Linked DNA regions of Homo sapiens. The protein of the gene in region 3 purifies or fractionates together with the protein of the main gene of each other region. This does not show direct contact. Each region holds a gene or a part of one and is shown on either strand. Other genes may lie near its edges. The genes, in order: CLASRP, RGPD2 and U2AF1.

Region 1 (3,645 bases), on a different chromosome or scaffold from region 3:
GTGAGCGGCTCTGCCGGCTGTACTGGCGTTCCCACTCTTCTCTCTCCTTCTCTCGGCGTTCCCGCTCCCTGCGAAGGCATGGCATGAGCATCTGGCCGGGAACACTGGACACACTGAACTCAGGGAGGGCAGGTGCTTCCAACACCCTACTCCGAGGAAGACAGTAAACCAAGGGGGCCGGTACTGCCACCAATCCCCGCTTGGAAAGGGAGCCCCAGGTTCAGAGGGACCCCAGCTGGCGGGGCTGACTGGAATCCCAGCCCCTTCCTAGGAAAGCCTGGGGAACAGAGGGAGGCAGGATAGTCCCATCATTTCCTGCCGCACTGGGGCACCTGCACACAGTGAGTGTTGAAATGGTCTCCGTCACAGTGGCCAGGCTTGGCAACCCAATGGCTACGTCTACTGGGTGCCTCCTCCGTGCCTGGCCTTGATCTTGTCAAATCCTCCCAACAGCCTGTGAGGTGGGACAGTGACTGTATCTCCATTTAGGAGATAAGCAAACTGAGGCTGGGACAGGAGAAAGACCCATGGCGGTGGGTGAGTGGGGAAGGGGTATCAGGAACAGCTTGCCAGGCCAAAAAAACAGCAAAGGTGACTGGCACTTGGAGGCTGGAAGAGCTGGGAGGAGGTCGCGGTGGCGGGAGGCAGGTCGAAATGGTGGGAGGAAATTCAGGGAGAGGAGCAAGAGAGGCAGCTGGGCACAGCCCCGAGGGCCAGGCAGGGATCTCTGCCTTTCATCCACCCACAGGGAGCTGGGCAGGGCTTGAGCCAGCAGCCCATGGTGGGAAGGCCAGGCAGGCCAGGAGGTGTGGCCATGGGACAGGGAGGGGCAAGGTCTTACTTCATGCGGATCTTGCGGGCCATGGCTCGAAGCTCGTCTTCCCGCTCCTGCAGCAGACAGGGCTATGAGGACGTGGCCAGGCCAGCACCCACCCGTCACCCCAGCCCTCCCTTTCCCACTTCACCTGCCGCTCATGCTCCTGCTGGATCATCTTTTCTTGTGCCGCCTTCTTATCCGCCTTGACTGTAGAGAGAAAGAACAGGGTGGCTGAGGGGTTCCCTTAAGAGCCCCACTCTCTTTTTTCTTTTTTTTTTTTTTTGAGACAGAGTCTCGCTCTGTCGCCCAGGCTGGAGTGCAGTGGCGTGATCTTGGCTCACTGCAGGCTCCGCCCCCCGGGTTCGCGCCATCTCCTGCCTCAGCCTCCTGAGTAGCTGGGACTACAGGCGCCCACCAACATGCCTGGCTAATTTTTTGTAGTTTTAGAGAGACGGGGTTTCACCGTGTTAATGGTCTCGATCTCCTGACCTCGTGATCCGCCCACCTCGGCCTCCCAAAGTGCTGGGATTACAGGTGTGAGCCACCGTGCCCGCTAAGAGCCCCACTCTCTAAAATGAGGAAGCTGAGCTCAGACAGGTCAACCTGACTGCAGAGGCCCCAGCATAGCGGCAGCGGAGCTGATGCAAACCCATTCCTCCCCAGAGCACCTCCGTGCCTGCGTGGCCTCTCTAGGGAAGGGCCAGGCCTCCCAAAGTGGTGCTGAGTCTCCTTGCTCCCACTGCCAAGGGAAAGAAGAGCTGTGAAACCCTGGAGGGACAGGGCAGAACATACACTGCCTGTTCAGCGCCTTCTGCATCCTCAGTTTCAGCTTCTCCTGAGGCGTCAGCTTGGGCTGGGGAGGGGGGAGAAGAGGCGGGAGAGGGGGTGGGTGTCCCAGAGCTCCCACAACCCACCTCAGCCAAAAGCCTGGGGCTTTGTGCGGGGGGGGGGTGGGGGGGGGAGAACGACGTGGGGAGGAGGGGCAGGCTGTGGACAGCCCTGAGGCTCCCAGAGGTTCAGTGACAGGTGGAGCCCCAGTGTACAGTGAGGAGGGGAGAGGGACATGGTTCTCACAGGGGCAGACCCTTCCCCTCCCCTCCCTGTCCCTGGGGCTGGATCTCCCAGCCCACCCGGGCCCCCCTGCAGGCCCACCGGGCCCAGCTCTTGGGCACTGCTGCTGACGGGAATTAGACGGGCGAGTTCCAAATTCTTACTGACTTTGGCAGCTCCTGTCTCTTTACCAGCGGCAGGTTCGGTCCTGGGTGGGGGCAGGGCCAGAGGACATGGTTGGGAGGGGGAAAGGGCAGCTGCCACCTCTGACCCCAGCCTCAGCACTGCCCTCAGACCAGGTAGCCAAGGCATGGGCCTCAGATGCCCCAGGGTGCAACCATGTCCCTCTCAGACCCCACAGAACCTGTAAGACAGGGACCTGTCCCCCTCTGACCCTCACCCAGGACAAGGTTCTAATTGTGCAGATCCTCCAGGATTTGGTGTGTCCTCCTCAGACCCCCCAGGCCAGGGCTGTGTCCCCCTGAAATCCACCCTCCCAGGCCAGGGCCATACACCACCCCCCAGACCTCCCAGGGTAGGGCTAAGTTCCCCTCAAAAAGAAAACAGTGATGTTCACCCTCCCCACCCGAGATTGGCAGCCCTCTTCCTCCAGACCCGCCCCGCTCACTTTTTCAGCTTCTCGCCCACAGCAGGGGACGCGGCCGGCCTGGTCAGCTTCTCTCTTGCGGGTGATGGCGAGGGGCTCTGGCTGCGGCTGCGGCTGCGGCTGCGGCTCTGGCTGGGGCTGGGGCTATGGCTGCGGCTGCGAGTCAGGCTGCGACTGCGGGACGGGCTGAGGGACCAGCTGCTGCGGCTGCGGCTACTGCTGTGGTGCCTGAGGCCCCGGCCGCCCCGCCTGTAGCGGTCCCCTGAGTGGGAGCGGCTCCTGGGGATGCAGCAGGGCGGGAGGAGGACTGTGAGGCTCCAGGGACCCCAACCGCACCCCACCCTGGGTCCGGATCCACAGTCCTCCTTCCTGCAAGGCCCAGGGTGACAGGCTCGACTCTCCTCTCCTGCTACTCTCCCTCCAAAATGTCCCAGAGCGGCATTCCGGCCTCCCTCCGGCTACAGAGATGGCGCTCTAGATACACTCAGCCTAAGGGCAGTCCTGCCATCATGAGCCCTGCCTGGCCCACGTCACCTCTCCCTCACTAGACACCCGCTTGCTAACTTCCCGGGAGGTGAGCTCTGGGAGGGATGGCTGGCTCCCCCTTTATGAGCCGTGTCCAGCTCAGGCACAACAGTGTTCCACGGTGACCTCATCTACACCCTCACCCACCACCTCATCCTGCTTGTGTCCAGGGTCTCGACAATAGTGGGGACCACCCCTTGTCCTCCACCAGTCTCAGCACAGACCCACAAGTTCCAGTCTGGGGATGCGGAACCCCATCCTCTCCCTGCTCAGGACACTGGTGGGACTCTCCACCCACTGCCCACTCTCAGGCTGGCATGCAAGATGTGCCCAGGTCCCACCTGTCCCCCAAGCCTTTCTCCTGTCATTGCTCTGGGTAAGCTACAAGGAATATATGACCTGGAAGCCAATTCTGGGCCACACGCTGACTCTGCTTGGGCTCTTTTTTTTTTTTTTTTTTTTTTTTTTGAGACAGTCTCTCTCTGTCGCCCAGGCTGGAGTGCAGTGGTGCAATAGCTGGGCTCACTGCAACCTCTGCCTCCTGGGTTCAAGCAATTCTCCTGCCTCAGCCTCCTGAATAGCTGGGATTACAGATGTGCACAACCACACCCGGCTAATTTTTGAATTGCGTTTTTATAAAATAAAA
Region 2 (3,645 bases), on a different chromosome or scaffold from region 3:
GTTCTTCTAATACAGAATTTAAGTCAACCAAAGAAGGATTTTCCATCGCTGTGTCTGCTGATGGATTTAAATTTGGCATTTCGGAACCAGGAAATCAAGAAAAGAAAAGTGAAAAGCCTCTTGAAAATGATACTGGCTTCCAGGCTCAGGATATTAGTGGCCAGAAGAATGGCCGTGGTGTGATTTTTGGCCAAACAAGTAGCACTTTTACATTTGCAGATGTTGCAAAATCAACTTCAGGAGAAGGATTTCAGTTTGGCAAAAAAGACCCCAATTTCAAGGGATTTTCAGGTGCTGGAGAAAAATTATTCTCATCACAATGCGGTAAAATGGCCAATAAAGCAAACACTTCCGGTGACTTTGAGAAAGATGATGATGCCTGTAAGACTGAGGACAGCGATGACATCCATTTTGAACCAGTAGTTCAAATGCCTGAAAAAGTAGAACTTGTAACAGGAGAAGAAGGTGAAAAAGTTCTGTATTCACAGGGGGTAAAACTATTTAGATTTGATGCTGAGATAAGTCAGTGGAAAGAAAGGGGCTTGGGGAACTTAAAAATTCTCAAAAATGAGGTCAATGGCAAACCAAGAATGCTGATGCGAAGAGACCAAGTACTAAAAGTGTGTGCTAATCATTGGATAACAACTACAATGAACCTGAAGCCCCTCTCTGGATCAGATAGAGCATGGATGTGGTTAGCCAGTGATTTCTCTGATGGTGATGCCAAACTAGAGCGGTTGGCAGCACAATTTAAAACACCAGAGCTGGCTGAAGAATTCAAGCAGAAATTTGAGGAATGCCAGCGGCTTCTGTTAGACATACCACTTCAAACTCCCCATAAACTTGTAGATACTGGCAGAGCTGCCAAGCTAATACAGAGAGCTGAAGAAATGAAGAGTGGACTGAAAGATTTCAAAACGTTTTTGACAAATGATCAAACAAAAGTCACTGAGGAAGAAAATAAGGGTTCAGGTACAGGTGCAGCCGGTGCCTCAGACACAACAATAAAACCCAATCCTGAAAACACTGGGCCCACATTAGAATGGGATAACTATGATTTAAGGGAAGATGCTTTGGATGATAATGTTAGTAGTAGCTCAGTACATGATTCTCCGTTGGCAAGTAGCCCTGTGAGAAAAAATATTTTCCGCTTTGATGAGTCAACAACAGGATTTAACTTCAGTTTTAAATCTGCTTTGAGTCTATCTAAGTCTCCTGCCAAGTTGAATCAGAGTGGGACTTCAGTTGGCACTGATGAAGAATCTGATGTTACTCAAGAAGAAGAGAGAGATGGACAGTACTTTGAACCTGTTGTTCCTTTACCTGATCTAGTTGAAGTATCCAGTGGTGAGGAAAATGAACAAGTTGTTTTTAGTCACATGGCAGAACTCTACAGATATGATAAAGATGTTGGTCAATGGAAAGAAAGGGGCATTGGTGATATAAAGATTTTACAGAATTATGATAATAAGCAAGTTCGTATAGTGATGAGAAGGGACCAAGTATTAAAACTTTGTGCCAATCACAGAATAACTCCAGACATGAGTTTGCAAAATATGAAAGGGACAGAAAGAGTATGGGTGTGGACTGCATGTGATTTTGCAGATGGAGAAAGAAAAGTAGAGCATTTAGCTGTTCGTTTTAAACTACAGGATGTTGCAGACTCATTTAAGAAAATTTTTGATGAAGCAAAAACAGCCCAGGAAAAAGATTCTTTGATAACACCTCATGTTTCTCGGTCAAGCACTCCCAGAGAGTCACCATGTGGCAAAATTGCTGTAGCTGTATTAGAAGAAACCACAAGAGAGAGGACAGATGTTATTCAGGGTGATGATGTAGCAGATGCAGCTTCAGAAGTTGAAGTGTCTAGCACATCTGAAACAACAACAAAAGCAGTGGTTTCTCCTCCAAAGTTTGTATTTGGTTCAGAGTCTGTTAAAAGAATTTTTAGTAGTGAAAAATCAAACCCATTTGCATTTGGCAACAGTTCTGCCACTGGGTCTTTGTTTGGATTTAGTTTTAATGCACCTTTGAAAAGTAACGATAGTGAAACTAGTTCAGTAGCCCAGAGTGGATCTGAAAGCAAAGTGGAACCTAAAAAATGTGAACTGTCAAAGAACTCTGATATCGAACAGTCTTCAGATAGCAAAGTCAAAAATCTCTCTGCTTCCTTTCCAATGGAAGAATCTTCAATCAACTACACATTTAAAACACCAGAAAAGGGTAGGTACTTTGTTGTTAAAGTTAAGCACAATTTTTCTTTCTTTTAATGTTTAGCTTGATGCAGACTCTTTGTGGGATACTAATGTTGGGATATAAACGATGCTTTGTGAACACCCCCAAAATATTTGAGCAATTTTTTTTCTCCCTTAATAAGTTCACGGTGAGGTTTCAAAGAGCAAGAGAACTTAGTTAAAGACATTTCAGTAACTGGAAGATACTTCTATCATGCTAGGGCAGAGCAAAAGAACTTGGTACAGTGTACGGACTCATGCTTGAATCATGCGCATTAACGTGAGTCTTTTTTTAAAGTGTTCATTTTCATTTGTTCTGTTTCTTTTGTCACTCAGAAAACATGATATTGAGGCTGGGCACGGTGGCTCACTCCTAGAATGCCAGCACTTTGGGAGGTTGAGGTGGGCAGATCACTTGAGCTCAGGAGTTCGAGACCAGCCTGGCCAATGTGGTGAAACCCTGTTTCTACTGAAAATACAAAAATGAGCCGGGCGTGGTGGTGCGTGCCTATAATTAGCAGCTACTCAGGAGGTTGAGGCAGGTGGATCGCTTGAGCACAGGAGATGGAGGTAGCAGTGAGCTGAAATCATGCCACTGCACTCCAGCCTGACTGAGTGAGACTTTGTCTCCAAAAAAAAAAAAAAAAACAAAAAAACAAAAAAAACCATGATATTGAGATGTTCTCATTTTATGTGTTGTATGTCAGTCTTGCTCATGTATTAAATGAGCAAAGAATGAAACTACAGGGATAAATGAATATGTAAGACAGTCAGATTGGTGGTATAAATTGAGGGATTCTGGCTTTTTATGTTTTAAAAGCATATTCATTTTGTTTCCTAAAATGTTAAAAAATGAAATATTCTTTATTTTCTAGGATTTAATTTTAGCCTTTTTAAATCTAATCCCATGGCCTTTTGGACTAGCACCCCTTCCTCACAGCCTGAGAGCAAAGGTATAGAACTAGCATTCTCAGTATGAGATAACAGCAGTTTTTAGCAGCTGGTAGCCCTTAGGAAAGTATTAATAACTGTGGCTGTATGAAATGAAGTACTTACCACTACAACATGAATGTTAAAGAATGCCAGTTTAAGCAAAGTACCTTTTGACTGGTGGCATGACACCCTTGTTGGTTTGTTTTTTAAAATGTACTGGGATGCTGATTTGTAATGTACTTCATTGCTCTGCTATTTCAGGTCTGCTCAGTGAAGACCTATGTTTTATCTAATGTTTATCTTTAGCCACTAACGTCTGCCAGTATTCACATGTAGTGGCAACGGCATGTATACAGTATGGAAGAGTGTCCCTGTAGGGCTGTTCTTTTGTGCATGGTTTAGAAAAATGTTGTATTTGAAAATGGACCCCATTTTTAACAGCCAGCATTCTACAGCTTGCATATTATATATGTTGCAC
Region 3 (4,296 bases):
AAAGTCATCTTTGGAGAAAGGCACAGACCACAGACTGTTTCTGTGATACCGTGTTTTTTTTCCTCCCAGGCATTGTCCTTAACCTTGGCAAAATAAACTTCTAAATTGATTGAGCCCTGTCTCAAGATACTTTTTGGTTTAAACCTCTGAGGCCCTACTGTTTCTAATACAGGTTTCCAGTTTGCTCATCTTTCCCAGGTAGGAAGATGCTCTGTTGCCAAGAGAAATGCAATTCTAACACGCAAATCCGCCCAAACACTAGAGCTCAGCATTCAGCTCTAGCCGAGCTAAGAGGATCCCATGGTCCTGCCCCACAGTCTGGGGCTCATCTTGTGGAGGAGGTAAGTAAAATAGGCCCTGTCTCTCTGACTTCTACCTAATCAGAGTTGATAGTTGCGTTGGAAATTAGGTAAATCGCAGGTGAGTTGATGAATGTGGGAAACCAGATGAAAATGGCTGCTTGATGGGGTTAAAACGCAGGAGAGGAATAGAACCCTTCCAACGGAATGGTTCCAGCCTTGTGACATGAGGAGACTGAAAGGGTATCCCAGAGGCAGGTCACTGGCCTTCCAGCTCCACCTGTGGGTGGCCTTGGCCAGGCAACTGCAAGAGTGCAGGGCCCCGGGGAGGTCGCACCTGGCAAGCGCTGAGGGAGGGTAAAGCGGAGAGGGGTGTGAGAAGAGAAAAACAACACAGAGCGTCCGAGCTATGTGAGGCGTGCGAGGTTAATCCGGCCCGGAGAGACAGGTCTATGCGGCTTCAGCGGTCCCCACCCATGCCTGGCAATTGTTTAAAGGCACTATTGCTCCGGACCCGCTGCCTTCACCCATGAACTTCCTTTCCTGGAATTATGATATAAAGAACAACGTACAGCCAATTAATAGCTTGTTATTTTCATGTAAATTCTTGGTGAGCTATTTAAGAACTGCCCCCCTCTTAAGCTTTATAAACCCACTTGTCACTGTTGCAAATCCTATGTTCAGGGCAACTTGAAGCTATGCTCCCGGGTTGCAATCTTCAAACTTGGCCCAAATAACCTCTCTACTTATATCAAGTTTGCCTCAGCTTTTTTTTTCTTCTAGGTCGACGGTTCCCGCCCCGCAAGGGTGCAGGGAAGGGGACGCCCGCACTTCCTAGTGCTCCCTTAGCTGGGGTCGAGCTGAGCGCCCCCCACCGAGCCCCAGGCGGCTCTGTGGAGAAGCCCCTCGGCCCCGGGTTCGGTCTGCACTGCCAGCCCCCAGTCCCCGGCGCGCAGGATCCAGCAGGGCCAGCGCCGGGCGGGCGAGAAGGCGAGAGAGCTAGGGCCGGGCGGGGAGGGCACCGGCAGGGGGCGCGGGTTCCCAGGACCGAAAAGGCGGAGCCTCCCACGCGCACTACGTGCTCCCTACGCGCATGCGTCCCGCCCACGCGCAGGCAGCACCTCGCCTGACTGGGTAGCGCTGCCACGTCGGGGCGGGGAAGAGCGTCGTCGCGTCCGGGTGACGTCTCCCGAGGGCGTCGGCAGGGTCGGCGGCGTCGGCAGCAGTGTCGACGGCAGCGGCGGCGGCGGGTGGGAAATGGCGGAGTATCTGGCCTCCATCTTCGGCACCGAGAAAGACAAGTGAGTGGGAGCCCCCCGCCGGGGGTTGGGCGCGATCGGGGCGCAGGGTGGTTGAGGCGGTGGGAGGGCGACCGGGGAGGCCCAGGCGGGCCGGCGCGGCGGTGGCGGGGGAGGGGCGCGCGGCGGGAAGGAGCGGTGGCCCTTCCGGCCCCTTGCGCGCCCTCCGGAGCCGCCGCCTCGTGGGCCGCGCGGCGGAAAACTGGAGCGGGCAGAATGAATGGGGTCTCTTTTCGGGGCGCCGCGGCCGAGCTTTCTCCGGCCTTGGGGTCCGGACTGGCTGATCGCCCGACGTCCGGGCCTCCGAGTCGCCGACTCCCGGAAGCCGCCTCGAGCCGCGCTGAAAGTTGCCTGGAGCATCCGGGCCTTTTGGACGTGGACACGTTTGTTCCAACTTTCGGCTGTGAATGTCCTGTCGAGCAAGCTCTGGTACCAGCCTCGCCAGTATTCAGTCGCTTATCTAACTTAGGGTCCTAAGCGTTGGTGTTTTATCCACTTAGCCAGCCTCTTGCCTGTTTAAGCGACCGCTGGGCCGGCAGTAAGGAGATATGACGAGAAAAAGTATGGTGGAGACTACTGGATTAACTATCTAACCACAAGAGACGTGATCCGCTCTTAACATACAGGTGCTCCTGGATTTACCATGGGATTGCGTTCCGATAAACCCATCATGAATCGAAAATGCCTTTAATACCCCGATAAACCCATCATCTAAGTTGAAAATTTGTAAGTCGGTGACTGTTCTTGAAGACACAATTCTGATATAAGGAAAAAGATGTTTTGATTTTTTCCTTAAGGTTGCATGCCTTCCCTAATCAATCGTTAGGTTAAAAGCAAAACATTTAATTTCAGCTTTAATTGCCACCTTGGCACGTACTAATTTCCAGTGAGTTGGCTGTAGTTTAGACTAAATGGAATGTTTTCAGACGTTTGAAGGATAATTCTTACTTTGAAAACCTAAAGACTCAGCATCTGGCTTAATCTACTCTTTAGTTATCTTGGCATTCTTCAGTGCCATACAAAGTTAACATGACTTTATGTTTTCAATGATAAACCCCTAAGTTTGTCATAGATGTTTTTAATGCCACTTTTTTCAAACGCTATTTAAAATGTTTCTCTTTTCCAGGATGGAGTCTATCTTGTAAAATGTCCTCTTCACACATGGTAGAATCTCCTGTGTTGTTTGGATGAGGAGGCTATATTTCTAGCAAAATTTTAAGCCAAAATCTACCAGTTATAGTCACTCCAGAAACATTTAGTGGGGGTCAACTATAGGTCAGTTTCTGGAGACTTAAACATGGGTAAAATTTGGATATTATCCTTAAGGAACTCACGGTATGATCTTGGCGAATGAATAGACCAGCTCTATCGGAACAAGAGACTCTTCTGAGTTTAGGGTGAAGAACTAACACATGTAGGATCGGGGCATCATTAATTTCTCCTTTTCATATTTGCATGTGGCATGACTTCTGTCTTGTAAAAGTCTATCTCCCTATATTTCTGCTATAAGCAACCACATTTCAATCTATTGGGCTATACTATAAAGGTCATGGTTTTAATTCAGAAAAGTTGATTATTTAATCTAGGTTACTTGTGTTTTCTTTTCAGGGAGACGTGGGGTTTTAGCTTCCAGGGAACAGGATCAACTCCTGAAAAATGAAGCTGATGGTTCATATTAACTTTAATTATTATTTAAGCTAAGAATAAAATATAGATCTCTACCAATTAAAAAATGTTTAGCTTATTATATGTTTGAAGTTATAGATGTTTTCTAGATTCAGGGATATCCTAATAGCTTGTCTGTAGTTTAATTGTGTGGAATAATTGGATATTAATTGTTGAGGCCCAGGGCTTGCCCATTCTGAGGTAGTTTTTAAATAAGCTTTCTTTATTTTTAGATGACTTCCTAAAGATATGCTATTGTCTAATCAAGTTAAATAATCTCAAGACCTGTAAGTTTGCAAATATATATAATCACTTTCCTCTCCTGATAAATTTGGACTTTCCCATCTTTATTGCTACCTGATAATAAATCAGTGGCTAGTCAGTCTTCATGGTCCATTAGATTTCACTGAGGTTGAGGCCCTTCAATCTTAACTCTGGATTGACTGTTTAAAACATAATGGCACTTGGTTAAAAAAAAATTGAATTTTGAACAAAGTCTGTCTGGTAAGATGTCCTAATTCATCAGAGATCGGCTTCCCTCCCTGACATTGCTGGCACACAGGCATGATTGCTGGTTCCATTGGATATGGATCTGGATTGTCAGCGTATTTGAACAGTATTAAGGGAGGGTTTTGCAGTAGAGACAGAAGGTGACGTAAGGTGGTTCCTAAGGTGGGTTCGGTCAGTCCCCTAATAGTTTGTTTTCAGTGTATTGAGACCAGGAGAATTGATTTACTTCAGACCTATTTTTTGAAACTCCCTGTTGGTCTGGTGTCATGCGTTTAGAGAGACTCTGAACTTCGTTTTCTGTTTTCCTTAGATAATGATAGCACTTCATGAGCACCATATGTGAAGCACACATACGTTCTGTCTGACTCTCAGAACAGTGCCACATTGGCATTGTCATCATTTACAGATGACATCTGAGAGCTAGGGTGACTTGCCCAAGCCCAAGCAGCTGGTAGCAGAGTTGGGATCTTAACCCTCACCACACCGGTGTTTTCAAGAGAGAACTTGGTCGTGGAGAACTGGAG

The links.
Region 1: the proteins of U2AF1 (region 3) and CLASRP purify together in Homo sapiens (affinity purification with mass spectrometry, with the first as the bait; one large-scale study listed by BioGRID). This does not show direct contact.
Region 2: the proteins of U2AF1 (region 3) and RGPD2 purify together in Homo sapiens (affinity purification with mass spectrometry, with the first as the bait; one large-scale study listed by BioGRID). This does not show direct contact.

Annotation. Positions count from the first base shown.
Region 1 is NC_000019.10:45,066,445-45,070,089, reverse strand, and holds part of CLASRP (CLK4-associating serine/arginine rich protein), read right to left. Parts: intron 2,754-3,645; coding exon 2,496-2,753; intron 2,076-2,495; coding exon 2,036-2,075; coding exon of another isoform or gene 2,032-2,035; intron 1,671-2,031; coding exon 1,610-1,670; intron 1,025-1,609; coding exon 966-1,024; intron 889-965; coding exon 842-888; exon of another isoform or gene 836-841; intron 147-835; coding exon of another isoform or gene 69-146; coding exon 1-68. UniProt on the Homo sapiens protein: Probably functions as an alternative splicing regulator. May regulate the mRNA splicing of genes such as CLK1. May act by regulating members of the CLK kinase family.
Region 2 is NC_000002.12:87,780,702-87,784,346, reverse strand, and holds part of RGPD2 (RANBP2-like and GRIP domain-containing protein 2), read left to right. Parts: coding exon 1-2,223; intron 2,224-3,109; coding exon of another isoform or gene 3,110-3,213; exon of another isoform or gene 3,214-3,645.
Region 3 is NC_000021.9:43,104,755-43,109,050, reverse strand, and holds the start of U2AF1 (splicing factor U2AF 35 kDa subunit), read left to right. Parts: upstream 1-1,480; 5' UTR 1,481-1,556; coding exon 1,557-1,600; intron 1,601-3,205; exon of another isoform or gene 3,206-3,265; intron 3,266-3,495; exon of another isoform or gene 3,496-3,549; intron 3,550-4,296. UniProt on the Homo sapiens protein: Plays a critical role in both constitutive and enhancer-dependent splicing by mediating protein-protein interactions and protein-RNA interactions required for accurate 3'-splice site selection. Recruits U2 snRNP to the branch point.